Homo sapiens: one gene and its partners. The protein of the gene in region 2 interacts with the protein of the main gene of each other region in a biochemical or structural test. Each region holds a gene or a part of one and is shown on either strand. Other genes may lie near its edges. The genes, in order: HSF2, CUL3, SHKBP1 and KLHL6.

Region 1 (8,079 bases), on a different chromosome or scaffold from region 2:
AATTGAAATTATACTTAAATATGTTATTGACTCTAAAATAATAGAAATGCCTTAATTCCAGACAGTCTTTAAGAAAGCATAATGTGGCTAGGCGTGGTGGCTCATGCCTGTAATCCCAGCACTTTGGGAGGCCAAGATGGGCAGGTTGCTTGAGCCCAGGAGTTTGAGACCAGCCTGGGCAACATGGTGAAACCCTGTCTCTACAAAAAAATACAGAAAGTAGCCAGGTATGGTGGCGTGCATCTTTAGTCCCAGCTACTCAGGAGGCTGAAGAGGGGAGATGGCTTGAGCCCATGAGGCAGAGGTTGCAATGAGCTGAGATCACACTACTGCAAGCCAGCCTGAACAACAGAACGAAATCCTGTCTCAAAACAACAACAACAAAAAACAGAAAGAAAAGAAAGTATGTTTTACATATTTCCATTTTCTCCTTACTCTTCTGAAAAACAAAAATGAAAAGTTTTCATTTTTTTTAACATTTCCTTTAAATGTAAAATTTTATATAACTGTTCTTGGCTTTGGTAGTCTGTTGTCAGAATCAAGTACAGAGATTGTACTGTCAGACGACCTAAAACTGTTTTAAATCTTAAGTGTCCTAAAGAGAGGGCACATATTAGCTTGGAAGCAACTGGTGAAACTTGATATTCAGAGACAAGGCCGTAGAGGTTAAATGAAGTTATATAGTAAAAAACAGCCTTTACGAGTTAATGAAATGTTACAACCAACGTATGCTGAAGTGAAGCAGTATAAAAGAAGGAAAGAACTGGAAGGTCATCCTTTTGTCAGTGTTGTTACCTTTGTCTCTGTTCTTCAGATTGTTTGAGAAAATGAAGTGATTTCCACCAAAGACTTCATACCCAGCTTTCCCCCCTTTTTGTGCCCTTTGGCATTCTCTGCTTCTCTATCCCCCTCATGTCAGCAGAGATGAATTAGGAAATAGGTAGGAGGGAGAGAGAGCAAAAACAGAATTTTTCCATTGTTTTCTAGCTGTTTTGGATGAATTTGAGCAGTAGGCCCTTGGACTTCACAAAGTGCTAGTATTGTTTTGAACATCCCAGCAACCATTGCATTATATTAGTATTTCAAAGTGAAAATAAGAAAGACTACAAGTGTGGGAGGATGGGGGTAAAATCCAACTTAGATGGACCTGCAGAAAAGTTGAAAGATTGATTTTCAAGTATTTTTATTTGTATATATAAGAGAAAGAATGAGCTAAAGACTCTAAAAGAGTAGCTGGTGCATATTAAAAATTATAGATTAGCAAGCCACAAATTTCTGTTCCGAAAAATGTTTTAAAGTAATGTGGCTGAAGTATTAGATTATTAGGAATATTTTGAGTGTTCTAACAAGAGTGCCAAAATTAATTTGGAGAGTAACGACTGTTTCTACTCTTTGGACTCTTGCCAACATTTGTGGGTAAGGTTTAAGGAGAAGGTGCCTATCTTTCCCACCTCACTCAGTAGTAGTTTTCTCATCCTTGTAAAATACTTAGGGAGATTCTGTGTTGTATTGCTTGAACCTCACAGGTTTAAAAGACAGGAAGGTGAATTTTTGCACTCAAAGAAGTTATTTACTAATTTTAGAATAGAGACTGAGGGAATACAATAAGCAGAGATAGAGTGATATGAATGAATAAGGAGTGTATGTGAGAGAGAGTGAGCACAGGTATAGCAAGAGATTATTGTCATCTCCCTATTTTATATAATCAAATAGTTGAAATTCTAAAAATTCAGTTTATTTGGCCAAAGATTAATTTAGTCAGTCACAGGTATTTGTTATGAATCTGTTATGACCTAATATTGTGCTAGGTATCAGGAATTCATTCAGTAGTGAACCAAAGTGCCTACCTTTATGGAGCTTACATTGAGTGGTGGATATCAATAAATAGTAAGCAAATACAAGCTGGGTATGGTGGTGCATGTCGTAGTTCTGGGTACTGGGGAGGCTGAGTTGGGAGGATTGCTTGAGCCCAGGAGTTTGAGGCTAGCTTGGGCAACATACTGAGACCCCTGTCTCTTAAAAAAAAAAAAAAAAAAAGTAAAAGCAAGCAAAACACAATCAATATAATTTCAGTTAGTGATAAATGCCTTTAAAAAACACCAAGATAAACTGTGTGTCGGTTAAGATGCAATCATAAGTCAGAAGCCACAGGTATTTTCAAGAGGGTAAGTTTAATAGAGTTACTGACTATATCAGGGAAATTAAAGAAAATTAAAAGAATACAAGAATAGTTTTAAGAAGCAGCCACTACTGATAGGGCTGAGATAGAGTGCCCAAGTAAGAACCTTTTTTGCCAAGGCTAAGATTCTTACCTTATTGGAAGGAATATGGCCATGACTCAGTAGCAGAGCAGTCACTGGTGTTGCTCTGGTGGAACTTACTGGAAATGCATCCTTCAAAACTTGGTGGGAAATATGCCCTCTAGGTCACGGGTTGGCAAACTGTAGTCCTTTTGCCAGCTGTTTTATAAAAAAAAGTTTAAATAGAACACAGCTATGCCCAATCTATTTACATATTGTCTGTATCTGCTTTCTCACTACAAAGGTAGAGTTATGATGTTATAATCTGCAAGCCTAATTTACTATTTGTCCCTTTAAGAAAAAGTTTATAAATCCCTGTTCTGGAGTACTCTAAAAAACTGTTTATGGGGAGATATCTTGTTAGAGATACTCTGCTTTGAAACCTCCCAAGGGAGAGGAAGCACCAGTGAAAGCTGATGGTCTTTGAGTGTTGCTGACCACCATTAATATCAAGAGCTAGGCACTGGAGAAGCTGCCTCCACTGCAGAAGCTTGCCAAGGATACATGAGTCAGGAACAAGAGCTCCTTTTTCTTGTAATATCTCTCTTTTATCCCCTGCTGACAGAACTTAACATCATGGCACCTAGAAAAAGAAAGATATTTATTTAAGGAACCAAGCTCTATGCTTGTAGAGCAGACAATGAAGAATGAATTTGGAGCAATAAATTGATAACTGGCCCATAAACAGACTAGGATTTGTGAATATTTTAGGTAAGGTGATGAGGAAAGCCTCTCCAAGGAGACGATGTTTGAGGAGAGATCTAAATGATTAGAAAAGATGGGCCAAAGGGGAATGACAAAAGGTAAGGCCTTGAATGTGGCTGTTCAAGGAAGCAGGAAGGCCCATGTGATTAGAATATCTTTAGGGAATTAGGAGAGTGAGAGTAGGGAGGTAGGCAGGAGCAGATGGTATAGGGCCCTAGATCTATAGTAAGAAGATTGGAAATGAGGGGACCAGTTAGAAGACTATCACAGTTTTCCTGTATGGTATTGAAAATATTGATGGCTGAGACTAAGGTAGCAGCAGTCAAGGTATTGAGATGTAGCTTTGAAATCTTTGAAGGCAAAGCTGCAGGATTTGCTGATAAATTGATAAATTGGCTATGGTTGGAGGAACGACAATTAAAAATGATTCATAAATTTGGTTTGAACTACAGGATAAATCCATTTGCTGAGGAAAGATGTTAGAGATTCTTTTTGGCATATTAACTTTGAGATTAAAAATGGATCTCTAGTAGTATTTGAAACAACTTGAAAATTGTTTAATTTTTCTTAAATTTGACCATGCCTAGTCATATGGCCACACCTAATTTCAAAAGGGATGAGGAAGTGCAGTGCTAGAAAAAAAAACAGGAGTATTTTTGAACAGCTTGACTGACTTCCACACTCCAAAATGTCCAAGTGGAAATGTTGAATAGGTGGTTGAGTATAAGACTTTGGCATTCAGGGTGGAGTTTAGACCTTGTAACTGGTAAAGCCAGGAGACTTAATGAAATCATCTTCTGTGAAGATAGAAGGAACCAAAAGATGTATTATTCCAACATTTAGAGAGTATGAAGACAAAAGCCAGCAAAGGAGGCTGAGACGGAACAGTGAAAAAGAAGGAAAATCAAGGGAGTGAACCCACAGAAGTTAATGAAAGAAAATGGCTCAGGAAAGAGATCAACTGTGTCACATGCTGTTAGGAATATTCTTGTATATCTCTCCTGGTGTATATAAGCAAGAGTTTCTCTAAGGTCTGTACACTCATGTGACTTGCTGGGATATAGGATATGAAATGTCTAACCTCAAGATAGTGTGAATTATCTTCCAAAGAGATCACACCAGCTTATTCCGCTATTAGCCATGTATGAGATTTTCTGTTAATCTGCCTCTTCAAAACTGTGTATTAGTTATCGTTCTTACTTTTTACCAATCTAATTGATGTAAAGCATTGTCTCAATGAGGTTTTGATTTATATTTTCTTGATTATTAATGAGTTCTAAAACCTTTTCACGTTCGTTGGCCATTTGTGTTTCCTGTTCTGTGAAATGTTTGTTTTGCCATTTTTCTGTTTTTTTTTTTATTATTTGTGAGAATTCCTATATATTCTACATATTCGAGTTTATGTTTTGGCCATATCTTCCAGTTTGTGGCTTTTTACATTTTAGTTGTCTAGCACCTTTACTGAGTAGTTCTTCCTTTTCCAATGATCTATATTGCCACTTCTATCTTACGTCACAAGTACGTGTAGATATTGTCTTAATCAGTTGGGCTGCCGTAGCAAGATATCATAGACCAGGTGGCTTCAACAACAGGCGTTTATTTTTTACAGTTCTGGAGGTGGAGAAGTCCAAGATGAAGGCAGTGGCCATTTCAGTTCCTGTGTTAGAGCTTTCTCTGCTTTGCAGACAGCTGCCTTCTCTCTGTGTCTTCCCAATGGCAGAGAGAGAGAGAGAGAGAGAGAGAGTGTGTTCTGGTCTCTCTTATCTTATAAGGACACCAACCTAACCTGGGGGGTCCTATCTTCATTACCTCCTCTGAACCTAATTACCTCCCAAAGGCTCTAACTCCAAATACCATCATATCAGGGGCAAGGGTTTCAACATAGAATTTTGGGGGACACAAACATTCAGTGGTTTTGTTTCTGGAGTCTTTATGCCATTCCATTGGACAATTTATCCTGTGCCTGTCTTCTGCTGTCTTAATTACTGTAGCTTCAGAAAAAGTCTTTTGGTAGGGTAATCTATCCTTCAGGAGTGCCTTAAGTATTTTTGGTCTTTAGCTCTTCCACATATGTTTTAAAATCAAGTTCCATAAAAAAAAAAAAAGCCTTTTGGATTTTTGCTGCAATTGGATCAAAACTATATAAATCAGATTAGGGAAAATCGATATCTCTGTGTTGTGTATTCTCATGACAAGGCATATTTCTAAATTCATTTTGTTGATTTATGTTTGCTATTAGGCCTTGTGGATCTTTGTTCATTTTCTTCCTGGATATCTTATATATGTTGTAAATGGTGTTCTTGACTTAAAAATAGATTTCTAGCTGTTGCTGGTAATTAGAAATACAAGTAATTTTTGTATATTGATAATAAATCAGTGAGCAAATCATTTTACTGATTTCAGTTTTCTGAGTACACCCATAGTATCTGTGATTGACATTTATTTTCTTCCTTTCAGACCTTTATGCCTTCCGTTTTTCTTTTGGCAGTAACTAAGAGTGAGTAGAAGCAATTATCATGGCATTCTGGCTTTGTTCTTAATTTTTAAAGGGAATGTTTTAATGTTTCCCCCTTACTAGCTGTTAGAATGAGAGTTTTTAACTTCATTTTTTTTTTTTTTTTGACATCAAATGTTGTCGGGTGACTTAGTGAGGAAGGGACTTGGTAGAATGGAAGACACAAGAAAAGATTGACTTCCGGGGAAACAGGAAATGGGTTTAGAACATACTGAGTTAAAGAACATAGTGTAAAAAATGTTAACATTTTAAATTGAAGTGTGTAATTTGAGATGATCAGGGACAGAGCTGTAGATGTGTTTATTATAAAATAAAGTCAATAATAAGATACCCTACTGTGGATGAATTCTAAGGAAAGAATATGAATGGTGCCACGATTAAGGATAAAAACCTGGAAAATACAGCTACCTCTTATTTGATAGGTGGAAGAAAATTGAAAGGAAATATAAGAGATAAGAGACTCAACAGTGTTTAGCATCAAAGCCCAGAGAGTCGAACATTTAAGGAGGAGATTGTTAGTTGTACCAAATGAAATGCCACAGAGAGGTGTAGGAAGATCAGGACTGAAAAGAGGGCATTGAATTTGATATTTGACATTTTAGAAATCTGGTTTCAGTCGAGTGAGGGAACCAAAAGCAGTTTTCAGTGAGAGTAAGTGGATGGTCCTGAATTGGAGAAGGGGGGTTTAAAATACCTGCTTGTTAAATTTTGCAGTTAAGGAAAAGACAGATGGGTAGATTGAAAAAGAAGGTATAAGAGGGAAAGTTCTTTTAAGATAGGAAAAGACGTATGCATTTTAAGCATTTTAATTTTGATAATTACCTAGTTGCCAATACTGGTTATTGTCAAGGGTTGTAAATTTAATCTAATAAGGGAAAATCATTATTTGTTTTGCTCTACATTCTTCATTTATGAGTCTGGGTCTCTTCTAAATTTCACAATGTGTTTTTCATCAAAATTGTGTTTCTGTTAGGAAGAAAGTAGAGGAGAGTAGAGATAGAGTAGGAAGCTAGCAGTCTCCATGGATAAATTTATATTTTATCTATATGTCTTCTGGGTTTATTATGTCATGTCTCCAAAAGCTTGCTTGTAAAGAGTAAGATGACATCGAGCTCTTATTTTTCTTCCCAAATGGAAAATTTCTTAATCCTTTTCTTTCCTGATTATCCCCCCATTTGAATGCCATCTTGACTTACTACCTGGTAAATTCTCAGATAGATTTGCTGGTTCATCTGTCCTCTCTAGTCAGTCCATTCATCTATGTAATCACTTCTTCTTTTGTACTAAATTGTTAACACTATAATTTTATAATCTGTATTGGGTAGGGTTAAAATACTCCTCCCCATTGTTCTCAATATTTTCTTTCCTGTTGTTATGTAATTATTTTTACAAATGAACTTATGTACCTAACATTTGGTTATGATAGCATCAATTCATCTTTACTCCACAAATCATTTTTTTAATTAAGACAGAATTTAATGTATTGGTTAATTTAGAGAGAATTGACACCTTTACAATACTGCATTTGTCTTCCTTTTGTATTTCTATAGTTTTAATATTTTTAAAGTTCCTGTATATTTTTAAATTTTATTTTTAGATACTTAACATTTTTCTATTATTATTGGGATATTTTATTCCATTTTAGTTTCTAATTTTTTTAATTGTGGTAAAATATACATAACATAAAATTAACCATTTTAAGTGCATTAAGTTAGATTCACATTGTTAGGCAACCATTACCACCATCCATCTCCAGAACAATTTTTATCTTTCCACACTGAAACTTTATACCCATTTCACAATAACTTCTAACTCCTTCCTCCCCGCAGCCCCTGACAACCACCATTCTACTTTTTGTCTCTGAAATTGGCTATTATGGAAACTTCATATAAGGGGAATTGTACAGTATTTGTTCTTTTGTGACTGGCTTATTTCACAGCATAATGTTTTCAAAGTTCTTTTCATGTTGTAGCTTGTGAGAATTTCCTTTTTTAGGTGAAATAATATTTCATTGCATGTATATACCATACTTTATCCATATATATTTCACCATGTGTTGGTGGATACTGAAGTTACTTCTACCTTTTGCCTGTTGTGAAAAATGCTACTGTGAACATGGGGTACAAATATCTGTTCAAGTCGTTGCTTTTATGGTTTTTTTTGTTTTGTTTTTTTGTTGTTGTTTTTGGGTTTTTTTTTTTTTTTTGAGTATATACCTAGGAATGGAATTGCTGGATTATATGTTCTTTGTTTAATTTTTAAAGGAACTATCATAGTGTTTTCCACAGCAACCACACTATTTTAACATTCCCACCAATAATGCACCAATATTCCAATTTCTCCACTTCCTTGTGAACACTTGTTTTATGCGTTTTTGATAATAGCCATTCTAATGGGTGTGCAGTGGTATATTGTTTTAGTTTTGATTTTCATTTCCCTAATGATTTGTGTTACTGACCATCTTTTTATTTGCTTATTGGAAGTTTGTATATCTTCTTTGAAGAAATATCTACTCACATCCTTGCTCGTTTTTTATCGGGTTGTTTGGGTTTTTTTTGT
Region 2 (8,079 bases):
CCGGGAGCTGCTCCTTCAGCCGCTCCGCGGGCGTCGGCTGCGGCCGGGGCCCCTCGGCCGCCCCACGCCTCCCCACGTTGCCGGGGTTGTAGGCCCAGTCTCCGGCGCTGCTAGCAGCCGCGGAGTCCTCCCTGTGTGGGGCGTGTGTGGAACTTTTCACGTGGGGTTTCGCTACACTTTGAAAATTTACCCAGCCTAGCTTTTAGGGTGATGAAGGGGCTGCCCTCTCTCTCTGCCCCCCTCCCCAGGAAGGTCTATGCCATCAACCTGCCCCCGACGCAGTGACAGTGGTTCCACGGAATGCTCCGTGGTCATAAACTAGTAACATTGGGTGTATTTATAGCGTCTTTCATCCTACAAGCTTCCTAAGCACTTTACAAACTCTTGTGCAGGATTGCCTCGCCACTCGGAGGAAGGCCGGGTGGGGGGGAAGCAACAGAGAGCAAACCGGCCAATTGGTTCTCCATTTCTCAGCCTTGGGAGCCCAAAGAATGAGTGTAGTCGCCTTGCGGAGTAGCTTTGTTTCATCGCTTTCAGTGACAGCAAACGTGTTCTGCTCAGAAACTTTTTCTTTTTTGGCATTACGTTGAGTCGTACCCTTGCGATGTTTAGTATATAGGATATAACTTTGGGTGTCAAATCTGGTTCAGCTTCCCCGTGGCAAGCAATTAAAATGTACTGTTAACGAACTGGGCATACTTGCCTATGTCGCTACAATAAAAGGCATACGTCAAGACAGACGAACTAGCAATCGGACAGAAGATTTTAAAAAGTAAAATTAGAGAAAGATCTTGGTCTTCCCTTCTTAGATTCATAAATACTTCATATGATGTACCAGCGAAAGAGGGGGATTTGTTGTCACTTTTTAAAGCATGCTTTTCCTGAAGCGCAGTTGCAGTGAGGAAAGACTTACCTTGATGTGATTGCCCCAGTTGAGTCAAGTGATTTAGTTTCAGAGAACATGAGGACCTCTCTGAATTCCTAAAATTTAAAAGGATACACCTCATGCAGAATTCTGAAATTGTAAGAACATAAATACTAAAGTCAGTGTGCGAAAACCTCTGCTTTGTGTAAATAGGTACGATGGAATTTAGGAGAATAAGTGTTTTGATAATAATTAAAGATTTTTTGAATGTTTCAAACTTTTTTCTAAGTAAACGTGAGAAATGTTGACAAGCGAGTACTAACGAAGCTTACTAGTATGTTTTCCCTTATAATTGGGCAGAGCTGGGTTATGCATTTGTGAGTGATATTAATTTTCCTACTAAATTCTGACCACTTTAGAGTTTAGAATTACTTAGAATTTTATGAAGTTAATAGTTGTATACAACAGATTTTCTTTTTTTTTGAGACAAGAGTTTCGCTCCTGTTGCCCAGGCTGGAGTACAATGGCGTGATCTCAGCTAACCGCAACCTCCGCCTCCTGGGTTAAAAGCCTCCTGAGTAGCTGGGATTACAGGCATGCGCCACCACACCGGGCTAATTTCGTATTTTTAGTAGAGACGAGGTTTCTCCATGTTGGTCAGGCTGGTCTCGAACTCCCGACCTCAGGTGATCACCGACCTCGGCCTCCCAAAGTGCTGGGATTACAGGAGTGAGCCACCGCGCCAGGCCTATATACAACAGATTTTCTAGCAGTGTGTGCAGCCTTACACTACTCAATTCTTGAAGTCTCATGTTCTAAATAAGATTTTTTGCTAAAATGTGGAGTAACTCAAATTTGACATCAACTCACTCAAGTTAATGGCCTTCTGATTGACCAGTTGTACGTTAATGTATGTGTAATTAAACTCTTTGACCTCTTCAGGTTTCCCTGCTCTTACCTGTTTTGCCATCATTTAATTTGTTCAGCAAATACTGAATATTATGTGCCAGGCACTGTTCTGGGGGTCTGTCAGTATAGCTAGAAAGACCAAGATCCCTGCCTTTTGGAGCTAATATTGTTGGGGAGAAGAGGTGGGAGAGAATTTCATTATTCCTTTAGCTGACCAGTATAATAACGTTGTGTGATACGTTACCACATAGTACTGGAACTGAATTTTTTTTTGTTAGCTTCGTTATGATTATGAGCTAATTTGGATCCATTCTGTCTATAACTTTTGCAGGTTTTTCTGAAAACCTTACATGAAGTAAGTGACTAGTTTTGGTATTCAGTAGTTAATAGCTGCTGATTTCTAAAAGAATTTTTCATTACTGTTTAATAAGTATTAATAACATTCCTAAGTGATTCCCATTGGAAAGAACTATTACAGTTTATGGCCCTTTGTTACAGATAGATGTATATCTCAGTGTTAGGGTGTTTCATAGATTTATCTTACTAACCGTGTGCTTATAGACCTTCAAAATTCCTGTCTTCCAGATTGGCAGTCTTGTTCATAACTACAGACTGCGTGAGTTGCTAGTCAAAAGTAGTTAATACCTAGTGTTCCGTAAAGAAAAAATATGGCCGGGCGCAGTGGCTCACGCCTGTGATCCCAGCACTTTGGGAGGCCGAGGCAGGTGGATCACCTGAGGTCAGGAGCTTTGAGACCAGCCGGGCCAACATGGTGAAATCCCATCTCTACTTAAAATACAAAAAATTAGCGGGGCGTGGTGGCGGATGCCTGTAAACCTAGCTACTTGGGAAGCTAAGGCTGGAAAATCGCTTGAACCTGTAAGGCCGAGGTTGCAGTGAGCTGAGATCGCGCCATTGCACTCCAGCCTGGGCAACAAAAGCGAAACTCTGTCTCAAAAAAAAAAATTGTTTATGGTTATACATATGTACATCCTTAATTGTTTATGGTTCCACATATGTACATATTTAAAAATTATTGTATTTTACATCTGTTGTTTGGATGTATACTTACTGTAATTTAAGGGAAACTGTAGTTTCACCAAAAGTGTCAAGCACTCGGCCGGGCAAGGTGATTCACACCTTCACACCTGTAATCCTAGCACTTCGGGAGAGGCAAGGCAGGCGGATCACCTGAGGTCCTGAGGTTAAGAGTTGGAGACCAGCCTGGCCAACATGCAAACCCCTGTCTCTACTAAAAATACAAAAATTTGCCAGGTGTGGTGATACACGCCTATAATTCCAGCTGCTCGGGAGGCTAAGGCACGAGAATCACTTGAACCTGGGAGGCAGAGGTTGCAGTGAGCCAAGATCGTGCCACTGCACTCCAGCCTGGGCAACAGAGTGAGACTGTCTCAAAAAAAAAAAAAAGAAAAGAAAAATTATATATGTTTAAGATGTACATGATGTTTTGATATATGTATACATTCTGACATGATTACTACCATCAAGCTAACACATAATCACCTCTTTTTTTTTTTTTTGAGATGGAAACTCGCTCTGTCACCCAGGCTGAAGTGCAGTGGCACGGTTTCAGCTCACTGCAACCTCCGCCTCCTGGGTTCGAGCGATTCTTCTGCCTCAGCCTCCCCAAGTAGCTGGGATTACAGGCGTGTGCCACCACGCCTGGCTAGTTTCTGTCTTTTTAGTAGAGATGGGGTTTCACCATGTTGGTCAGGCTGGTCTTGAACTCCTGACGTCGTGATCCGCCTGCCTTGGCCTCTCAAAGTGCTGGGATTACAGGTGTGAGCCGCCACGCCCGGCCAATAGTTCTGTTTTTTATGTCTGTGTGATGAGAACAAGTAAGATCTACTGCCATAGCAAATGTAAAATATGTAATATAGTATTATTAACTGTTCTTAACTGTGCTGCACATTTGATCTCCACAATGTATTCATCTTAAAACTTGTATCCTTTGACCAAAATCCACGCCCCCATTTCTTTCATTCCCCAGCCTAGGCCTTAGAGCAAGACTCTTGTCTTAAAAAAAAAAAAAAATCTCAAGCACTCATCTCAGATTGTTTTACAAAATTAACTTGTAAAAAAATATAGAATTGTGTTTTGAGATTGTTTTCATTGCAAAATAGAGTGGTAATTGAACTTACTGGATATTTTATAGATACTACTCCAGATAAATTCCCATCAGTAATATCAGATTCTTTTTAGTGTTTTGAGTGCATTTTTTTTTTCTTTTTTGAGACAGAGTCTTGCTCTGTCGCCCAGGCTAGAGTGCAGTGGCACGATCTTGGCTCACTGCAGCCTCCACCTCTTGGGTTCAACCGATTCTTGTGTCTCAGTCTCCCAAGTAGCTGGGACTACCGGTTTGCGCCACCACGTCTGGCTAATTTTTGTATTTTAAGTAGTGATGGGGTTTCGCCATGTTGGCCAGGCTGGTCTTGAACTCCTGATCTTAGGTGATCAGCCCACCGCTGTTACGCAAAGTGCTGGGATTATAGCTGTGAGCCACCGCGTTTCAGCCTTAGTGCGTATTTTAAGTATACCTTCATCATTGTCTGTAGAAGTTATAATACACAACAGTTTAATGCACAATTTGCATTTTTAAATAGACCTTTTCCTAGAAGTTCTTTTTAAGATGGAAGACAATAAGGACGTTTCTGTATTTGTAAGCTGTTGACAAAGGAAAAGTTTATTCCAGTTTATAAGCTTTCCCGCCTTGCACAAAATGTATCATTTCACATCTTTTTGATAATGTTTAAATTTTAATTTGTATGCAGAGGAACAAGGACCACAAAACTTTTTAAAGAAAGCAGGCTGTAATTGTGAAACTTCTGGAAATAATGTGGGTCTGGATCAAATAATTCTGCCCCAGGGAGTCTCTTCCTTACTCCTGGGCTTTGTTCCACTATGTAGGATTAGTTGCTTTCAGGTGAACCTTTTATTATCTTTATCTTTGAAAAATCATTTCTTACCATTTTTACTGTCTGGGGTTTTGCCCACATGGGTTTGATGAGCTTGATTAGAATTGGAGAGGATACGTTTGAATGAAAATGCTGTCCTTTCCTGTATCAAACGGTAATAAAGCCTTTCTTGGCCTAGCCTTCAGAGTTTGGGAAACCTGTTATGAAGGTGACTGTCTCCAGAATGTAATCAGGCTCTTAAGATCTCTACCCTGGGGTCCTGGAAGTAGCTTCAGTTAGTTTATAAAAGCTTGCTAACTCATCAGGAGAAAGAGTGTTATGATAAAATGCCCACTCCCTAATGCTAGAGGAACTCCACTTGTGTAGCATGGACAGCAACTGTTTGGAAGTGATTGTTAGCTGGAACATACAGGGCGACTCACATTAGTGAAGGAGTTTTATGTTCATTTGTGATATACTTAAGAACAGGAAGAGTCTTAAGGACAGATGGGTACAGTTAATCTTTTTTTTTTTTTCTTTTCTTCGAGCTACAGAAATGTTTGCCAGATTTGAGGGAACAGCTTTCATCTTCATAGTAGGTTTCTCTTTCTTAGGGAAGGTAGTTGTTGGCATAGTACTACCTGGACTGGTACATAGAGGAAAGCTGGATGGTAGTCTTGCAGATCACACTGAGCAGAGAATTAATTATAAATTTGCTTTTCATTTTTCATGTTATGAAACAAAGTGAAACAGATTCATTAAAGTGTTACTTATACTTAAACTAATACTGTTTATAGTTTTGGGACAGCCAGTATTGTCATAGCTGTTAGTACTACTATGACTTTAGAAGTTAGAAAAATAAAAGCATACGGTTGTTATTAACAAAGTATTTATTTTGTCTTGTCTTTCTAGATAGCAGTTCAGAGGAACCTGGAAAATTATTAGTACCAATATTGAATTAGAAACTATTTAAGTAATATGAAATATAATGTAAAAATTTGGCTTTTTAAGTAATACATAAATCACAAACTTGATTCAAACAAATTAGAGAATGCTTCATTTGTTTGTACATCATTCATTAAATGAAGTTAAGGGATGAAAGCATTTGTCCAGTTCAGGAAGATTATATGATTAAGGCTAGAAAAAGTGGTATGCCTTTTTTTTATATTATACATTGGGGGACTTTAAAGGGAATTTTTTGTTATTTTCATTCCAGAGTACATGGATGGTCTTTAGTAGTCCTGTTAGGTTTATATAAAAGTTACTAGACAATTTGTAGTTTTAAATAATGCAACTTTTTTTTAAAAGTAGTTCTTGTTAGCCCATTGTAAGGTCAACAGAATGTAAAGGTATTACTAGTAAGAACAAATCACTGAGTTAACACATGAATTACAATTAGTTATTAGTCTATCAGTGTCTTGTGAAAACTATTCAACCATAGTCTGTTAAAGCAATGAATTTATTTTAGTAGCTTTTCTAATTATAACAATGATGTATATTCCTGGTAGAAAAATTGATAATTATCTAAATGTACAAGTAGGGAAATAAAAAAAATCACCTGTAATCCTACCACTTGGAAACAAACAACATTAACATTTTCATGTGTTTTTGGAATTTTAATTTCATATTGTTGGCTGAACAGACAGTAAAATTAAGGTAAGATAATCATTGTATATGCTGCTGTTAAAAAATTTCTTACTGTAAATTTTTGAAAACATAGTTTTTAATGACTATCATACTTCAGTTTGCTTAACCATTTCCCTATTGCCAAATATTTTGGTTGATTCCAGGGAGTCCATATTTTTTCTGTTAAAAAAGATTGCAACTATGACTATTTAGACACATAAATATTTGAGTCCATCTATGATTATGGAATTATTGGGCTGCACGTAACTGAAATATATTACCTAATTGACCTCCATAAGGGTAATAATAATAGCTAACACTTTCTAAATGCTTATCATGTACTCTGCATATCTAAACTTAATCATTTGAGCAAACTCTATTGAATACTACTATTATCTGTTCTACAAATGAGGCTTTGAGAGGCTAAATAATTTGCTTAAGGTATTCTTCCAAGTGGCAGAACTAGGATTCTGACCCAAGCAATCTGGCTCTAAAGTGAGCACTCTTAAGAATTAATTATATTTCTCAAGGTTGTATCCGTTTAACTTCTGTGTAGCAGTATCTTACCCAGCATAATGTATGTTTAATTTTATAGGTGAAAAAATAGTACTTTAATGCTTTAATTTGCATTTCTTTGACTACTTAGGAGAATAAAACTATGAATAGTCTGTAGAGAATTTTCATTTACTTTTGCACTGGAGTATTCAACATATGAATATAGGGATGTGACTAAAAAGTAAAGAGACTGAAAGCATAGTAGTTAAGAGTGTGGGCTTGAATACCAGCTCCATGTCTTTCTAGCTGCATCACCTTTTTTTTTTTTTTTGAGACAGAGTCTCCGCTCTGTCACCCAGGCTGGAGTGCAGTGGCGTGATCTCAGCTCAGTGCAAGCTCCACCTCCCGGGTTCACGCCATTCTCCTGCCTCAGCCTCCCTGGTAGCTGGGACTACAGGTGCCTGCCACCACGCCTGGCTAATTTTTTTGTATTTTTAGTAGAGACGGGGTTTCACCGTGTTAGCCAGGATGATCTCGATCTCCTGACCTCGTGATCCGTCTGCCTCATCCTCCTACAGTGCTGGGATTACAGGCGTGAGCCACCGCGCCCGGCCTCTAGCTGCATAACCTTTAACAAGTTACTTCTTGTAGCCTCAGTTTTCCCCTGTGTAAAATGAGACTGCTAATGAGACCCACCTTACAGGTTTGTTGTGTGATAAATAAAATAAAGCTTTAAAATAGAACTTAGCAGATAGTTAACTATTATTATACCAATATTTAGCCACGATTAGGCCAATATTAAAATTGGATGTTGTTTTTGCAAGCAGTTACATCGAATGCCATACACTTATTTTAGCGATCCTGTCATTTTATTGTACAACTTCTAGAACTTAAGTTTTGAAAAGCCTGCAGAGCCAGTTTGTGAATCGTTCTAAGAAAGCATTCTCAAAGGATATGGGTTTAGTACCACTGGGATACTTAAAGAATCCTGTTGGCTCTTGAGGGGTGGCTTCAAAAACAGAAGTTCATATATGATTCACATGTAATCCTTAGAGTAAGTGTGTAACCTCTTGTAACTTTATTGAAGGAATAAACACTCATTTGGTTTGCATGTTCTATAATATGTACGTTAAATGTGCATCTAAAAACACATCTAGTTTTTCTTTTTTCCTTCCTTTCCTCCCTTTCTCCTCCTTCTCCTCCCCCCCCCCCCTTTTTTTTCACTCCTGAACTAGGTTAGGTTGTGGTCCCTGTCCAAAGCTTATGCCA
Region 3 (7,092 bases), on a different chromosome or scaffold from region 2:
AGCCTCCCAAGTAGCTGGGATTACGGGTGCCTGCCACCATGCCCAGCTAATTTTTGTGTTTTTAGTAGAGGCAGGGTTTTGCCACGTTGGCTAAGCAAGTTTTGAACTCCTGGGATTCTCCTCTCGTCGTCTCCCAAAGTGCTGGAATTACAGGCATGGGCTGCTGCACCCGGCCTCTTTCTTATTTCACTTACTTACTCATTTCCTCCTCATCTCCCTTCCCGCCACATGCCACTATTATGTCATTTTTCTTTGTTTTTTGAGACAGTCTCGCTTCGTCACCTAGGCTGGAGTGCAGTGGCGCAATCATAGCTCACTGCAGCCTCACCCCCTGGGCTCAAGTGATCCTCCTACTTCAGCCTCTTGAGTAGCTGGGATCATAGGTGAATGCCATCACACCCAACTAGTTTTTTAAAAATCTTTTGTAGAGATGAGGGTCTCACTATGTTGCCCAGGCTGGCCTCAAACGCCTGGCCTCAAGCAATCTTCCTGCCTCGGCCTCTGTTCTCTGTTTTACTTTCTCTTTCCTCTCTTATTTGCTGTTTCACTGTTACAATTTCTGTCTCTGGGCCTCTCCTCCTTTGACCTGTGCCTTTGTCTCCCTGTTCCTCCATTTCCCACATCTCATCACCATCTTTTTGTGTCCTTCCCTCTCTCCTTGCTTTCTGACTGTGTCTCTGTTCTGTGTCTCTTTCTTTCTTTCTTTCTTTTTTTTTTTTTGAGACAGAGTCACATTCTGTCATGCAGGCTGGAGTGCAGTGGCGTGGTCTTGGCTCATTGCAACCTCTGCCTCCTGGGTTCAAGCAATTCTCATGCCTCAGCCTTCTGAGTAGCTGGGATTACAGGTGCGTACTACCACCACCAGCTAATTTTTGTATTTTTACTAGAGACAGGGTTTCAGCACGTTGGCCAGGCTGGTCTTGAACGCCTGACCTCAAGCGATCCACCCGCCTCAGCTTCCCAAAGTGATGGGATTACGGCGTGAGCCACCGTGCCCGGCCTCTCCTTGCTTTCTGACTGTGTCTCTGTTCTGTGCCTGTTTCTTTCTCCCTGCCCTGGTTTCTGTCTCTGTGGCCCAGGCCCTCTCCTCATCCTTGGCCCCTCACCAGGTGACAGTGGGAACTGGATCGAGATCGCCTATGGCACCAGCTCAGGGGGCGTGCGGGTCATCGTGCAGCACCCGGAGACTGTGGGCTCGGGGCCTCAGCTCTTCCAGACCTTCACTGTGCACCGCAGCCCTGTCACCAAGATCATGCTGTCGGAGAAGCACCTCATCTCAGGTGAGCCTCTGTGGGGTGCTCCAGTGCTGGGAGAGACAGCTCAGATGGGAGTGTGGAGACAGGAGGATGAGAATTTCCACTGGGGAGGGACATTGTGTAGGAAGAGAGCTCTGGCGGAGAGGATTGACCTGGGATGGGACTGTAATTGCAGAAGTGAGAGAATACCATAGGGGATCAGTCTGGGGAAGAGTGAATCTGTGTGTGTTTGGGAATCCATCAATTCAGCAACGATTTACGGGGCACCCACCATGTGCCAGGCATAGGGGATACAGTGATGAACAAGACAGGCCAAGTCCCTGCCCTCGTGGAGCTGACATTCTAGCAGCGATGGCAGACAATAAATCTATAAAAATGGACATCAATGGCCAGCTGCGGTGGCTCACACCTATAATCCCAGAACTTTGGGAGGCCAAGGCGGGTAGATTACTTGAGGTCAGGAGTTCGAGACCAGCCTGGCCAACATGGTGAAACCCCACCTCTACCAAAAATATAAAAAATTAGCCAGGTGTGGTGGCACGTGCCTGTAATCCCCGCTACTCGGGAGGCCGAGGGAGGAGAATTGCTTGAACCTGGGAGGCGGAGATTGCAGAGAGCCCAGATCATGCTACTGCACTCCAGCCTAGGCAACAGAGCGAGACTCCATCTCAAAAATAAATAGATAAAAATGCAAATCAGGCTGGGCACTGTGGCTCATGCCTATAATCCCAGCACTTTGGGAGGCCAAGGTGGGAGGATTGCTTGAGGCTAGGAGTGTGAGACCAACCTGGACAACAAAGTGAGACATTGTTTCTACAAAAAATTTTTAAAAAATTAGCCAAGTATGGTGGCATGCACCTGGGGTCCCAGCTTCTTGGGAGGCTGAGGTGGAGGGATCACTTGAGCCCAAGAGTCAGGGGCTGCAATCAGCTATGATTGCACCCCTGCACTCCAGCCCAGGCAACAAAGCAAGACTCTATCTCATAAAATATTAATAAAATAATCTAAATCAACACCAGGCAATGATAAGGGCTATGAATAAACATGAAGCTGTGTGTGGCTAGAGAGTGTCAAGTCGCTGGAGAGGGGTCATTCAGGGAAGGCCTGAGGAAGGACCTTTGAGCAGAAATAACAGAATGAGCAGTGCAGATTGGTAGGGACAAGCATTCAGGCCGAGGGAACAGGCATTGCAAAGGCTCTGAGGTGAGAGGATGCCTGAGGAAGTGCAGGGAGCCACTTGTGCCTGGAACAGAGTAAATGAGGGGGAGAATGGGAGGAGATGAGGGTATGGAGGTGACAAGGGCAGGAGCCACAGAGGGCTCCGAGCAGGGGAGGGACATGACTAGCTTCAGGTGTTCACAGGCTCCACCTGGCTGCCCGTGGGAGCACACTACTGGGATAGGACAGGAGCAGGGACCTCTGGGAGGGGCGTGCTGATACGGTCCAGGCAGGTGACGAAATGGACCAGGACCGGTGTGGGGCAGAGGATAGGGCAAGGTGAGATCAGGCTCTGGAACAGTTTTGGAGGCAGAGGCAACAGGGTTTTTAACATTTGGAATTCTGGGGAGGAAAGGATTCTCTGAAAGGGAAGAACTCAGCAAGGGCTGACCCTCCTGAAACGGGGCTGTCCTGAGGCTCTGGACGGGCAGGCAGCATTGATGCCTGCACCAGGCCTGACTTCCTGCTCTCCTTGTGCCCCTCAGTCTGTGCCGACAACAACCACGTGCGGACATGGTCTGTGACTCGCTTCCGCGGCATGATTTCCACCCAGCCCGGCTCCACCCCACTCGCTTCCTTTAAGATCCTGGCTCTGGAGTCGGCAGATGGGCATGGCGGCTGCAGTGCTGGCAATGACATTGGTGCCTACTGGCTCCTGGCCTTCCCACCCCACTGACCCCCTTACCTGACCCCTGTTGACCTCCGCTGATTCCCACTTGCGGCCACCTGACCCAGGAGCCTGCAACGATTGGGGTGTCCTGATCCTTGAGGCACCTGAGCTCCACTGACTGCCACAACCCCCCAGCCCTCTCTGGCCCTGCCCAACTCTAACAACCTGGGGATGGGACTGGGGTCTTGGGGTGGTGGGTTTCATCAGTGGGGAAGGAAGTCTGAGGCTGAGGGAATCCCAGCTGGCCCTGACCCCTGCCCCTGCCTGGCCCAGGCCCCTACGGTGAGCGGGACGACCAGCAAGTGTTCATCCAGAAGGTGGTGCCCAGTGCCAGCCAGCTCTTCGTGCGTCTCTCATCTACTGGGCAGCGGTGAGGACAGTCCTGTCCAACAGGGAGGGAGGACAGTCCTGTCCAACAGGGAGGGAGGTCAGGGGAGAAGGCAAGATGCTAGCCAGATCACTGAGGCCAGAAAGGGGTCCCAGCCAAGGAGCATTGAAGGAGCAAAGGCTGGGAGGGAGGACAGGCCTGGTAGGTTTGTCTTCTGGTATCAAAGGTGTGACAGGTGTTGGTGGGACTGACCTGGCGCAGTGCCAGCCCAGTGCAGGCAGGGCCAGGTTGAAGGCACAGGGGGTGGGGTCAGGGTGGGATGGGGGGCCCAGGCGGAGGGGGAGGGGTGGGATGGGGGCCCAGGGGGAGAGGTCGGGGTGGGATGGGGGGACCAGGGGGAGGGGTTGGGGTGGGATAGGGGGACCAGGGGCAGGGGTCGGGATGGGATGGAGGAGACCCAGGGAGCTGTAGGAGCCTTGCTTCAGCTGGGAAAGGGGCCTCGGAGGATGTTCTGGATGAAGGGACTCTGAGCAGAGACCTAGAGGACAAGTAGGAAGGAGCAGAAGAAAGAAGGCAGGGGAAGGGGGCCCCAGCCTGAGGGAACTGTATGTGCAGAGGCTGAGAAGGGCCAAATAGGGTCACATGGGAAGGACACGTGGGCTCCTGGGCTGGAGCACAGAACAGGAGGTGAGGATGGGGTGCAGATGCGGGCGGGCCTTGTCAGGCTGTGGAAGGGCTGAGGCTTTGTCCTGTGCGGGGAGCCGTGGCCACTGCATGGGGGATGAAAGGAGGCTTGATGGGAGGCCAGGAGCCCAGGGAGGAGGCCAGGAGGCTGATAGGAGGTGGGGGAGCAGCTGGGACGGGCCTCAGGTCTTCCCTGCAGTGGGAGCAGGGAAGAGCAGAAGCTCTGGGAGACTCCCTGGGTGTTTGGGGCTGCGGTGTCCAAGAGCTGCTGGACCCTTGGGACTGGAACTCAAAAGCAGGCTAGGGATGGATAAAGATTGGGATGGCCCCTGGAGAGGCAGGAACTGCAGCCACAGTGGTGGGGACTGGGACGAGGAAGGGTGAGAAAGCGAGGGTGACCACCTCCCCCACTGCACCCCCCAGGGTGTGCTCCGTGCGCTCCGTGGACGGCTCACCCACGACAGCCTTCACAGTGCTGGAGTGCGAGGGCTCCCGGCGGCTCGGCTCTCGGCCCCGGCGCTACCTGCTCACTGGCCAGGCCAACGGCAGCTTGGCCATGTGGGACCTAACCACCGCCATGGACGGCCTCGGCCAGGCCCCTGGTACTCCCTGCCCCACCCCAATCCCGTCCCAAGCCCCACAGCCTCACCCAGAACCACTCTCCACTGCCAACTGCTTGATCTCTCTCCCAGGCCCTTGCCCTCTGACCCCTTTTCCTTTGACCCCCTCTCTGCTCCCCATCCCTTCCTGCCCTTGTTTTTCAACCCCTGTCTCAGCCTCTGGCCCCCATGCATTGATCTCTGCTTCCTCTCTCCTGTCCTGACCCTCGGTGCTTGCACTGCAATGCAACCCAGGCCCTTGCCCTATGACCCCTGTCTTGCCCCCTGACCCTGCTTCCGTGCCCCCCAGCAGGTGGCCTGACGGAGCAAGAGCTGATGGAACAGCTGGAACACTGTGAGCTGGCCCCGCCGGCTCCTTCAGCTCCCTCATGGGGCTGTCTCCCCAGCCCCTCACCCCGCATCTCCCTCACCAGGTAGCCACAACTCCACTGCCCCTTCTGTGCAATGAGGGGAGAGGGGACAGCATGGTGTTCCCGGGGACAGAGTGGCCCAGCTGCCCCGTGATGACGTGCACTTACTGTCCTTACTTCCTCAGCCTCCACTCAGCCTCCAGCAACACCTCCTTGTCTGGCCACCGTGGGAGCCCAAGCCCCCCGCAGGCTGAGGCCCGGCGCCGTGGTGGGGGCAGCTTTGTGGAACGCTGCCAGGAACTGGTGCGGAGTGGGCCAGACCTCCGACGGCCACCCACACCAGCCCCGTGGCCCTCCAGCGGTCTCGGCACTCCCCTCACACCTCCCAAGATGAAGCTCAATGAAACTTCCTTTTGAACAACGCAGCTGCCATGATGCCTTGGGATGCCCTGGTCCTGGGGGACTCAGGTGCCTCCCTGATTCCTGTGGGAACCCCGGGTTCAGGGCCAGGGCCTCCTTGGAATAAATGGTTATTGTTACTAGGTCCCCACCTTCCCTCTTTTCTGGAAGCCAAAGTCACCCTCCCCAATAAAGTCCTCACTGCCAACATCTTGCTTATTCTTAGCAGGTTTGGGACTCCCCAGGAAAGGGGTGGGGAAGATGTGGGACCCAACCCGATATATGCAAAATCAGGAACATCTACCTCTCTTGTTTAAGCAAAGGGAGGCCAGGCATGGTGGCTCACATCTATAATCCTGGCACTTTGGGAGGCCAGTTTGCTTGTGCTCAGAAGTTTCAGACTAGCCTGGGCAACATAACAAAACCCCATCTCTACAAAAAAATACAAAAATTAAGCAGGCATGGTGGTGCATGCCTGTGGTCCCAGCTTCTTGGGAGGCTGAGGTGGGAGGATCGCTTGAGCCTAGGAGGCCAAGGCTACAGTGAGCCATGATCACACCACTGCACTCCAGCCTGAGTGACAGAGTGAGATCCTGTCTCAAAAACAAAACAAAACAAAAAAGGTGTTGCAGGGGAGGAATGTGTTGGCTTTTACTCTGCCTTCAGGCATGGCTGGATCCGGGGCTTCAAACACTAATTCAGAATATCTTTTTTTCTTTTTTCTTTTCTTTTTTAAAGTCTCACTCTGTCATCCAGGCTGGAGTGTAGTGGTATGATCTCAGCTCACTGCAACCTCCACCTCCCGGGTTCAAGCAATCGCAATCCTCCTGCATCAGCCTCCCGAGTAGCTGGGATTACAGGTGTGCACCACCATGCCCAGCTAATTTTTTTATTTTTAGTAGAGACAGAGTTTCACCATATTGGCCAGGCTGGTCTCGAACTCCTGACCTCAGGTGATCTGCCCACCTCAGCCTCCCAAAGTGCTGGGATTACAGGCGAGAGCCACTGTGTCCGGCCCAGAATATCTTTTTATCTCCTAACTTCACTTACCTCTGGAATACATCTTCAATCAGGTTTTCTCTCTGTGGCAAGGTGACTCTAAGCAGCTGCTTAGCAACTCTTTCTTCCCTAGCAACAGCAAAAATCACAAGACTGATTTTCATTGGCTTGAATTAAGTCAGGTGGCCATTCCTGAACCAATTACTGTGGCCAGTGTGATGAAGGCCTTCCATTATTGCAGCCTGGATCATGTGTCCTGCTGTATTTTTAGTAGAGGCAGGGTTTCACCATGTTGGCCAGGCTGGTCTCAAACTCCTGACCTCAGATGATCCACCTAACTCGGCCTCCCAGAGTGCTGGGATTACAGGCGTGAGCCACCTTTCCTGGCTGGCCTTGGGATTTTTTTTCCCCAAATAATGCCCGTTCCTACGGCACTTCCTTGAGGAGATTTTCTGCATCTTTTTTCCTTGTGCCAATAAAAAAGGGACAGAAAGTGGGGACAGACTAGGAGTAGAGAATACTAGAACATGCTAATTCTAGAATTCCATAGTTTCTGGAATGCCAGAGC
Region 4 (8,079 bases), on a different chromosome or scaffold from region 2:
AAATAAATTAATAAATGAATCCATTTTACTATTCGCGTTTCACAACTTGCTGGGATCGGTAGACGTAAATTGTTAGCCTCGCTCTATTGTAGACATCGGCGTTGAGCCTCAGAGGAGCCAAGCAATTCCTCCAAGATTTACACAGCCAACAAGTGGCGAGTCCGGACTGAAACCCCAGTGCCATAAGTCTTTTTTTTTTTTTTTTTTGACGGAATCTCTCACTCTGTCGTCCAGGTTGGAATGCAGTGGCATGATCGCAGCTCTCTGCAACCTCCGCCGTCCGGGTTCAATCGATTCTCCGGCCTCAGCCTCCTGAGTAGCTGGGACTACAGGCACACGCCACCGTGCCTGGCTAATTTTTATATTTTTTAGTAGAGACGGTGTTTCACCATGTTGGCCAGGCTGGTCTTGAACTCTTGACCTCAGGTGATCCACCAGCTTCAGCCTCCCAAAGTGCTGGGATTACAGGAGTAAGCCACTGCACCCGACCTCAGAGTCTTTATTTATTCCACTTAGGACAACTATTTGTATACTCACTGCTGAAGTACTAATGCATTAGACTAAAGAGCGCTGGAGGTGCTATATAACATTTAAGATATGCTAATATCCAAAGAATTCTGAATGGCAAAGCACATCTGGCTCCCAGATTTTTGGGTAAGGGATTATGGGGCTTTCTGATAATGTTAACAGTTTTCATTTTGGTGTTATTTGTCTACCTTTTCTCACATGCATATCTTTCCATAGTTTACATGCAATTTTGCATCTTGCTTTGCCCCCTGTTTTCATTATAATATTTTTCCTACGGTGCTCCATGCTTTTCATAATGACTATTTATTATATTGCTACCAATTTCAACAGAGGCATAATATGAAAATCATTCTCTCACTGTGGACATTTAGGTTGCTTCCAGTATTTTGTTTTTATACGTGACGTGGTAATCTTTGCATTAAGCATTTTTTCCCAGTTTGGAATATGGACGGCCTACATTTTTTCAGGCACTTTGCTGGATTCTTTTTATTTCATTCAGTCTTCATAATATCAAGTAGATAGCATGGTGTCCATTTCATCCTTGGGGGAGCTCACTTTGATGGGAAGAGTGGTTTCCCCATGATGTCTAAACTGAAAACAGGCCTCTTCACAGAGAACAGAAATGTGGCTAACAGGTCATTTCCTATGACCCCTCAGCTCCCCAAGACTCTTTTGCTAGTGTAGGCTACATAAGCTGAAAATGAGGAGGAAATGTAAAAATCAGAGCCTCCTTGTGCTCATACACACATGCACAGGCAGGATACTGTTGGAACATTCATTCCAGTTTATGTCTGGGGGCTGAGCTGACAGACCCCCATAGCAGCAAGGACCCAGCATGCCTTAGGACATCAGTCTGGATCAAAGGGTTAAAAAAGAGACAAGGAAGCAGGGTCAGGGTGTGCAAGGTGAAAAGACAGTGCGCTCTGAAAATATATGGGACCTCACTGTGGCTAGAACCAGAAACTGGTTCTCACCATTTGGGAAGCCCAGCTCACTGCAAAATATGGCACACTCTGTAAGTGACAGTGACCTGTGAGGGCAGCCCTGCTGTGATTCCCAGGGTTGGCAGAGGGAGGGGAGTCCTAGTGATGAGGGGAGGGGTTATCAGGCTTTTCTCTGCCCTGTCTCATGACTGGCCCTTCCTTCATGCATAGAAAAGCTTCCAGGCTGAGGCTGAGTCATTAGCAATCTCCTTTGTTGATGCTGCTGCCTGGAATCCTTGTCTGGATTCCTGTCTCACTCCTGTCTTGTACCGCAGTCTCTAGGTCTGGTTCCTTGAGGCTATGTTGAGAGGACTTTACCCGCCAGCTACAAAAATCAGGCATAAGGCCAGGAATGGGAAGGTTATTGTGAGCACAATCTATGCACTTGTTAATCATTATTACATATTAACCAATTACTGCATGGCAGAAAAGTGGGGCAAGAGACTACTCTTAAGCCACATGTAGATGTTGTAATCCTGAGCTTTGTCTCCATAATGGGGTAAGATGTCAGAAAAGAGTCAGAAAGCCCAGGTGATAGAATAAGTGCCAAGAACATATACACCATGGAATACTGTGCAGCCATAAAAAGGAATGAGTTCATGTCCTTTGCAGGGACATGGATGAAGCTGGAAACCATCATTCTCAGCAAACTAACACAGCAACAGAAAACCAAACACCGCATGTTCTCACTCATAAGTGGGAGTTGAACAATGAGAACACATGGACACAGGTAGGGGAACAACACAACCCGTGGCCTGTCGGCGGGTGGGGGACAAGGGGAGGGAGAGCATTAGGAAAAATACTTAATGCATTCAGGGCCTAAAACCTAGATGATGGGTTGATAGGTGCAGCAAACCACCATGGCACGTGTATACCTATGTAACAAACCCGCGCATTCTGCACATGTATCCCAGAACTTAAAGTAAAATTTAAACAAATTTTAAAAAAGAGAATAAGTGCCAAGAAAAACAAGAATGAGTTAAGGCCATGTAGGTCTGTATTAAAAATCTGGCTAACAGCAAATGTGTTGAGGATTGCTGCTGCCACAGTGGGTACACTTGAGAACTCAAGTGAAGCCAATGATTGTAACACCAGGGTCAGGCCCTATATTTTCCACTTTTAATATTTTCCAATATTGTGGATCAGAACCAATATGATAGTAAATATTTCAGCATTATATATCTATAATCCCTTATCTGTAGTTTCAAAATTCCCAAAGTGCTGATAAATGTAAAGTTTTTTGTAACTTATTTCATGGCTAAATCCAACTTGAATGGCACTCGTCAGGTCGGGACACCTGAGTCTTGCTCTGTTGCCCCGGCTGGAGTGCAGTGGCATGATCTTGGCTCACTGCAACCTCCGCCTCCCAGATTCAAGCAATTCTCCTGCTTCAGCCTCCCGAGTAGCTGGGACTACAGGCATGTGCCACCACGCCCAGCTAATTTTTTGTATTTTTAGTAGAGATGGGGTTTCACCATGTTAGTGCTTGACTCTTAAATAGGAACAGATATCCAAAGACTACCAGATATTTAAGTATAGCCTCTAAAATAAAAGACAGAGGCCAGGTGTGGTGGCTCATGCTTGTAATCCTAGCACTTTGGGAGGCCGGGTCAGGAGGATCCCTTGAGCCCAGGAGTTTGAAACTATCTGGGCAACATAGGGAGACCTTGTCTCTAGGAAATAAATAAATACATACATAAAATAGAATAAAAGAGACAAAAACAAAGAGAAAAATACAGTGAAAACAAACAGTAAAAAACAAACAAAAACAGAAGAGTGGTTTTTTAAAAAATATAAACCTCAAAGAGATTAAGTGAAAATATGACCTATACAAAACAAGAACAGGATGTTATAAAAAGGAAGCTTCATACATAAAACAAGAAAAAAGTCTTGGAAGTTAAAAACTGAGATTCTCAACAGGTTGGAAGATAAAATTGAGAAAAATCTTCCAGAAAGTAAAACAGAAAGATAAGAGGATGGACAACAGGAGAGAGAAGATGAGAAAGCTAGAGACTGTTCTAGAAGTCCACATCTACTGAATAAGTGATCCAGAAATAGTAAACAAGGAAAACAGTAACCATGTAATTACCAGGCAGTAATATGAGGAAATGTTCAGGATTAAAGGATGTGACTCTCCAGATTAAAAGGGTTCATCAAATGCATAGCATAATGGTTGGAGTAAAACACACATACACACACACACACGCACGCACACACACACCCCTCCAAGGCACATCATTGTGAAATATCAAAATGTTATTTAAAATCAAAGAAAGGCCAGGCGTGGTGGGTGGCTCACAGCTGTAATCCCAGCAATTTGGGAGGCGGAGGTGGGTGGATCACCTGAGGTCAGGAGTTCCAGACCAGCCTGGCCAACATGGTGAAACCCTATCTCTACTAAAAAAATACAAAAATTAGCCGGGCATGGTGGTACATCCTGTGGTCCCAGCTACTTGGGGGGCTGAGGTGGAAGAATTGCTTGAGCCCAGGGAGGCTGCAGTGAGCCATGATCAAGCTGCTGCACTCCAGCCTGGGCAACAGACCAAGACCCTGTCTCAAAACAAAACAAAAATATATGCGAGGCCTTAAAAATTTACTTCCTATGGGCTGGGCGCAGTGGCTCACGCCTGTAATCCCAGCACTTTGGGAGGCCAAGGTGGGTGGATCACGAGGTCAGGAGATTGAAACTATCCTGGCTAACATGGTGAAATCCTGTCTGTACTAAAAATAAAAAAAAATTAGCTGGGCGTGGTGGCGGGCGCCTGTAGTCCCAGCCACTAGGGAGGCTGAGGCAGGAGAATGGCATGAACCCAGGAGGCGGAGCTTGCAATGAGCGGAGATACTGCCACTGCACTCCAGCCTGGGCGACAGAGCAAGACTCTGTCTCAGAAAAAAAAAAAAAAAAAAATTACTTCCCATGCACTCTTTCTTAGGAAGTTATTGGAGAATGTGCTTATCAGGGTAAGATGGTAAACCAGGGAAGAGAAAGATAGGGGTTGAAGGGAGAAGGCTCCATTCAACATAGCAGACAGTCCCGGGGAATGATGGAGAAGCAGGTGAATCCCAGCCAGCGTGCAAATCCAGGGAACATGTGTAACATGATGCAAGGCAGGAGGATTCTGAGGAAATGGAACTGGTAGATTGTTTGATGCATTGGACCATATGAAAGATTTTTGTGAGCCTGTGAGCAAAAGACACCCCAAAACAAAGCAAATGAAAAAATGAGTGAATTAATAACTTCAGGAAAGACAAAAGGTTTACAAGAAAAGAAACGTGATCATTGAGTAATTTGGCTCAACAGAGAACAAGGTTTTCGTGAACATAATAATGTAAACTCTTGTTGTGATAACATTATGTTGAAAGATTACAGGGAAGGAAAGCTTATGGTAAGAGGTTAGGTAAGGATACTAAATCCTTATTTGAAATCAGTGAATGATGTCTAACACTGAAAAATCAAGAAAGAGCAGTATAAGTGTATTTTGCAGAAATATAGAGCTAGTGCCAGAAGAAACAAATAGAAGTTGAAAGTGGTAGCCTTTGGCGCATGAGACAGGGTGGAGGAGGAAATAGGAATTTTTGTTTTTTCATTATAAGCCTTTAAATACTATTTAACGCTTTGTTTACTATTTGCATATCTTTAATAAAAAATAAAATTTAATTTTAAAAAAATACATGAAAAACAGAAAGGCAGTGAAGAGACAGTTCAACAAAAAAAGAACTGCAGATGCCCCTTAAACATACGAAGAGATGTTTGATCTTACTAAAAATAAGAAAAATGCAAATTAAAGCTAAATTGAGATATTCTTTCTCATTTATCAGATTGGTAAAACTTCAGCGGTTGGATGACACCCTCTTTTGGTGATGCCGTGGGGGAACGCAACATGATTCAACCCCAATGAAAGAGAAGTTGCAATAACCGCTAAGACTGCAGATGCATTTGACTCAGCAAACCCCCTTCAAGAAATGCATATGAAAAAAACTCATGTTTCAGGTTATTCATTACAACATTGTTTGTAATAGCAAAATGTGGATTAGAAATAGTCCAGATGTCTGTCCGTAGGGGACTGTTTAATAAACTATTGTCAGTCCCTTAGTGGAAAGTAATTATTTTCTCAGTGAATAAAGGAAAAAAATGACATAATTTTATAACCAGCTTCCAGGCCCTCCAAAACACAGAGAGCTGTGTTGAAAGCCTCACAGACTGGTCGGGCGCGGTGGCTCACGCCTGTAATCCCAGCACTTTGGGAGGCCGAGGCGGGTGGATCTCGAGGTCAGGAGATGGAGACCATCCTGGCTAACACAGTGAAACCCCGTCTCTACTAAAAATACAAAAAATTAGCCGGGCGTGGTGGCAGGTGCCTGTAGTCCCAGCTACTCAGGGGGCTGAGGCAGGAGAATGGCCTGAACCCTGGAGGCGGAGTTTGCAGTGAGCAGAGATTGTGCCACTGCACTCCAGCCTGGGCGACAGAGCGAGACTCCGTCTCAAAAAAAAAAAAAAAAAAAAAAAAAGAAAGCCTCTCAGACAGAGAGACTCTTTGACCTCCCTAAACCTGAGCATACGAAGAACCCCTTTCAAAACCTCAGACACAAAGCGAGAGAGTGTGTCAGATTTAACGTCAGTCCTAGGTCTAAATCCCAGCTTGGCTACTTTTTATTTGCTGTGACACTCTGGACTTTGGCTCACCGTCGGTAGGCTGGGGATAGGACTCCCTGCCTTGTCAGGTTGTTGTGAGGGTGGAGTGGACTAGAGTATGTGATACAGAAGCTACAGGGCCTGGCCCACAGTAAGCGCTCCACAAACAGGAGTTGATAGGAATAGTAGCACCGGAAGAAAGAATCCTGTCTCCAGGACAGTATTCATTGTAGAAGGAAAGTCACGTTGAAAATCCCAAGAGAAGAAGCAAAAGTCACTTCTCTGAAGAGAAGAATTGAAGGAATTTCCTCTCATGACCAGGCAGTTTTGGGAGAGGCTCTGTATACACAGTCAGATGCCTTCACCCTCATGTTCTCCAGCTTCTCATTGCCGTTGCCTCCTCTGACGACCGGCAGAGACTTTCCCTAAGTATCCTGGATCAGCAGGGCTGGAAGGACCCAAGCCCAAATTCCCATTTAGGATGAGAAACCCAAGAACCAGAGAAGACCAGTGATCAACTCGAGGGCACACAGCCAGCGGGCCTGGTCCACAGCCAGGCCAACCCGCTAACAAAACTGCTTCCAGGTATGCATTTTATGATAGCAAGGGATACAAAAGGATCAACCTAAATGTGCGTCCCCAGGGCATTGAGCTAACTTGACTTCACTCACTCCTGAGAGGGGCTGCAGTCAACGTGAAAGCACGTGATCAAGGTTGGTGGAGAAAGTAATGTGTTTATATCAACCCATTTTGATGGCTGTGTTTACACTTTATATTTTACACACTTCCCATGGAATGAAGTCCCAGACCTAGTGGCAGCTTGCATTGCAGTAACAAGGATTTCCAGAACATACCCAGTCCCTGCTCCAGCAATGACCAGATATATAATGCTGAGTTTTCATTTCCTCATCTGTGAAATATCAGCCACCTTCATCATGCTGTTACAAAAATAAAATCAGATAACTATGTCTGTCTGGCACACAGCAGCCACTGCTTCCCTCAAACCCAGATATCCCCTTGTCTTATCAACACAGGAGACCTAATGAGTCCCACAGCAACCTGCTGATCCTGCTCTATGAATTACAAAGAAACGTTTCCCCCCAAGCACCTCAAAAAAAAAAAAAAGAAAGAAAGAAAACGCTTTCCATAATACTTTCATAGGTTAATCGTTTTCAATTTCCTCAGCCAGAATCAAGAGTTAAGAAGAATCTCATTAAGAAGAATTCTAAGGGTATTTCTTTTCAAGTTCCCAAATACTTTCTTCATTATCCACATTGCCCTTGCAGGCTGGTTCCCCCATGTCCATGCTGATATGGAGAACACTGGATCAGGTGTATTCACTGGGTTCCCAGCGCTATAAAATTCCTACCCCAGGGACGTGCTCATGGGAAACACTCAATAAGTCATCCTTAGCTGAATCAAGCAGAATCAGAAAAAGAATTCCAAGAAAGATATATTGAGCATCTACTTACTATATGCTAGACACTGTGTAGGACCCTTTTCACGCTCTTGTTTAATTATGACAGCCCTGAAAGGTGATCATCATTGTGCTCACCTTACAGATGATGAAACAGACATTCAGAGCACTTTGTGACTTGCCTAAAGTTTCACTGTCAAGAAGGAACCAAGTCTCCTGACTTCAGGCCTTCCCACTATGAGATCACCAGTTTATCGTAACTAGAGGCCTCTCCCATCTAAAGCATCTTTGTAACTGCTTTCCCTTTCCCCACACTGCCTACACATAAAGAAGCCCCTAATTTGTAACAAGTCATTTGACAACTCCAGAAGAGGGGCCACATCCTTTTTCTCTATGTCTGTTGATTAACAAAGACAACATTATGTTTCCAACACCAGTCAGACCAAGGGGGAAAAAAGTCCCCATGACTTCAGTAATTTTCCATCCTTTGGAACAAGGAAATATACACAAAAGGTTTA

The links.
Region 1: the proteins of CUL3 (region 2) and HSF2 form a complex in vitro, tested with the Homo sapiens proteins (one study listed by BioGRID).
Region 3: the proteins of CUL3 (region 2) and SHKBP1 form a complex in vitro, tested with the Homo sapiens proteins (one study listed by BioGRID).
Region 4: the proteins of CUL3 (region 2) and KLHL6 form a complex in vitro, tested with the Homo sapiens proteins (one study listed by BioGRID).

Annotation. Positions count from the first base shown.
Region 1 is NC_000006.12:122,403,239-122,411,317, forward strand, and holds part of HSF2 (heat shock factor protein 2), read left to right. Parts: intron 1-8,079. UniProt on the Homo sapiens protein: DNA-binding protein that specifically binds heat shock promoter elements (HSE) and activates transcription. In higher eukaryotes, HSF is unable to bind to the HSE unless the cells are heat shocked.
Region 2 is NC_000002.12:224,576,632-224,584,710, reverse strand, and holds part of CUL3 (cullin-3), read left to right. Parts: intron 1-8,079. UniProt on the Homo sapiens protein: Core component of multiple cullin-RING-based BCR (BTB-CUL3-RBX1) E3 ubiquitin-protein ligase complexes which mediate the ubiquitination and subsequent proteasomal degradation of target proteins.
Region 3 is NC_000019.10:40,585,665-40,592,756, forward strand, and holds the end of SHKBP1 (SH3KBP1-binding protein 1), read left to right. Parts: intron 1-1,079; coding exon of another isoform or gene 1,080-1,109; coding exon 1,110-1,280; intron 1,281-2,959; coding exon 2,960-3,115; intron 3,116-3,417; coding exon 3,418-3,514; intron 3,515-4,579; coding exon 4,580-4,758; intron 4,759-5,065; coding exon 5,066-5,189; intron 5,190-5,311; coding exon 5,312-5,543; 3' UTR 5,544-5,733; downstream 5,734-7,092.
Region 4 is NC_000003.12:183,546,723-183,554,801, forward strand, and holds part of KLHL6 (kelch-like protein 6), read right to left. Parts: intron 5,605-8,079; exon of another isoform or gene 5,331-5,604; intron 2,242-5,330; exon of another isoform or gene 2,013-2,241; intron 1-2,012. UniProt on the Homo sapiens protein: Involved in B-lymphocyte antigen receptor signaling and germinal center formation.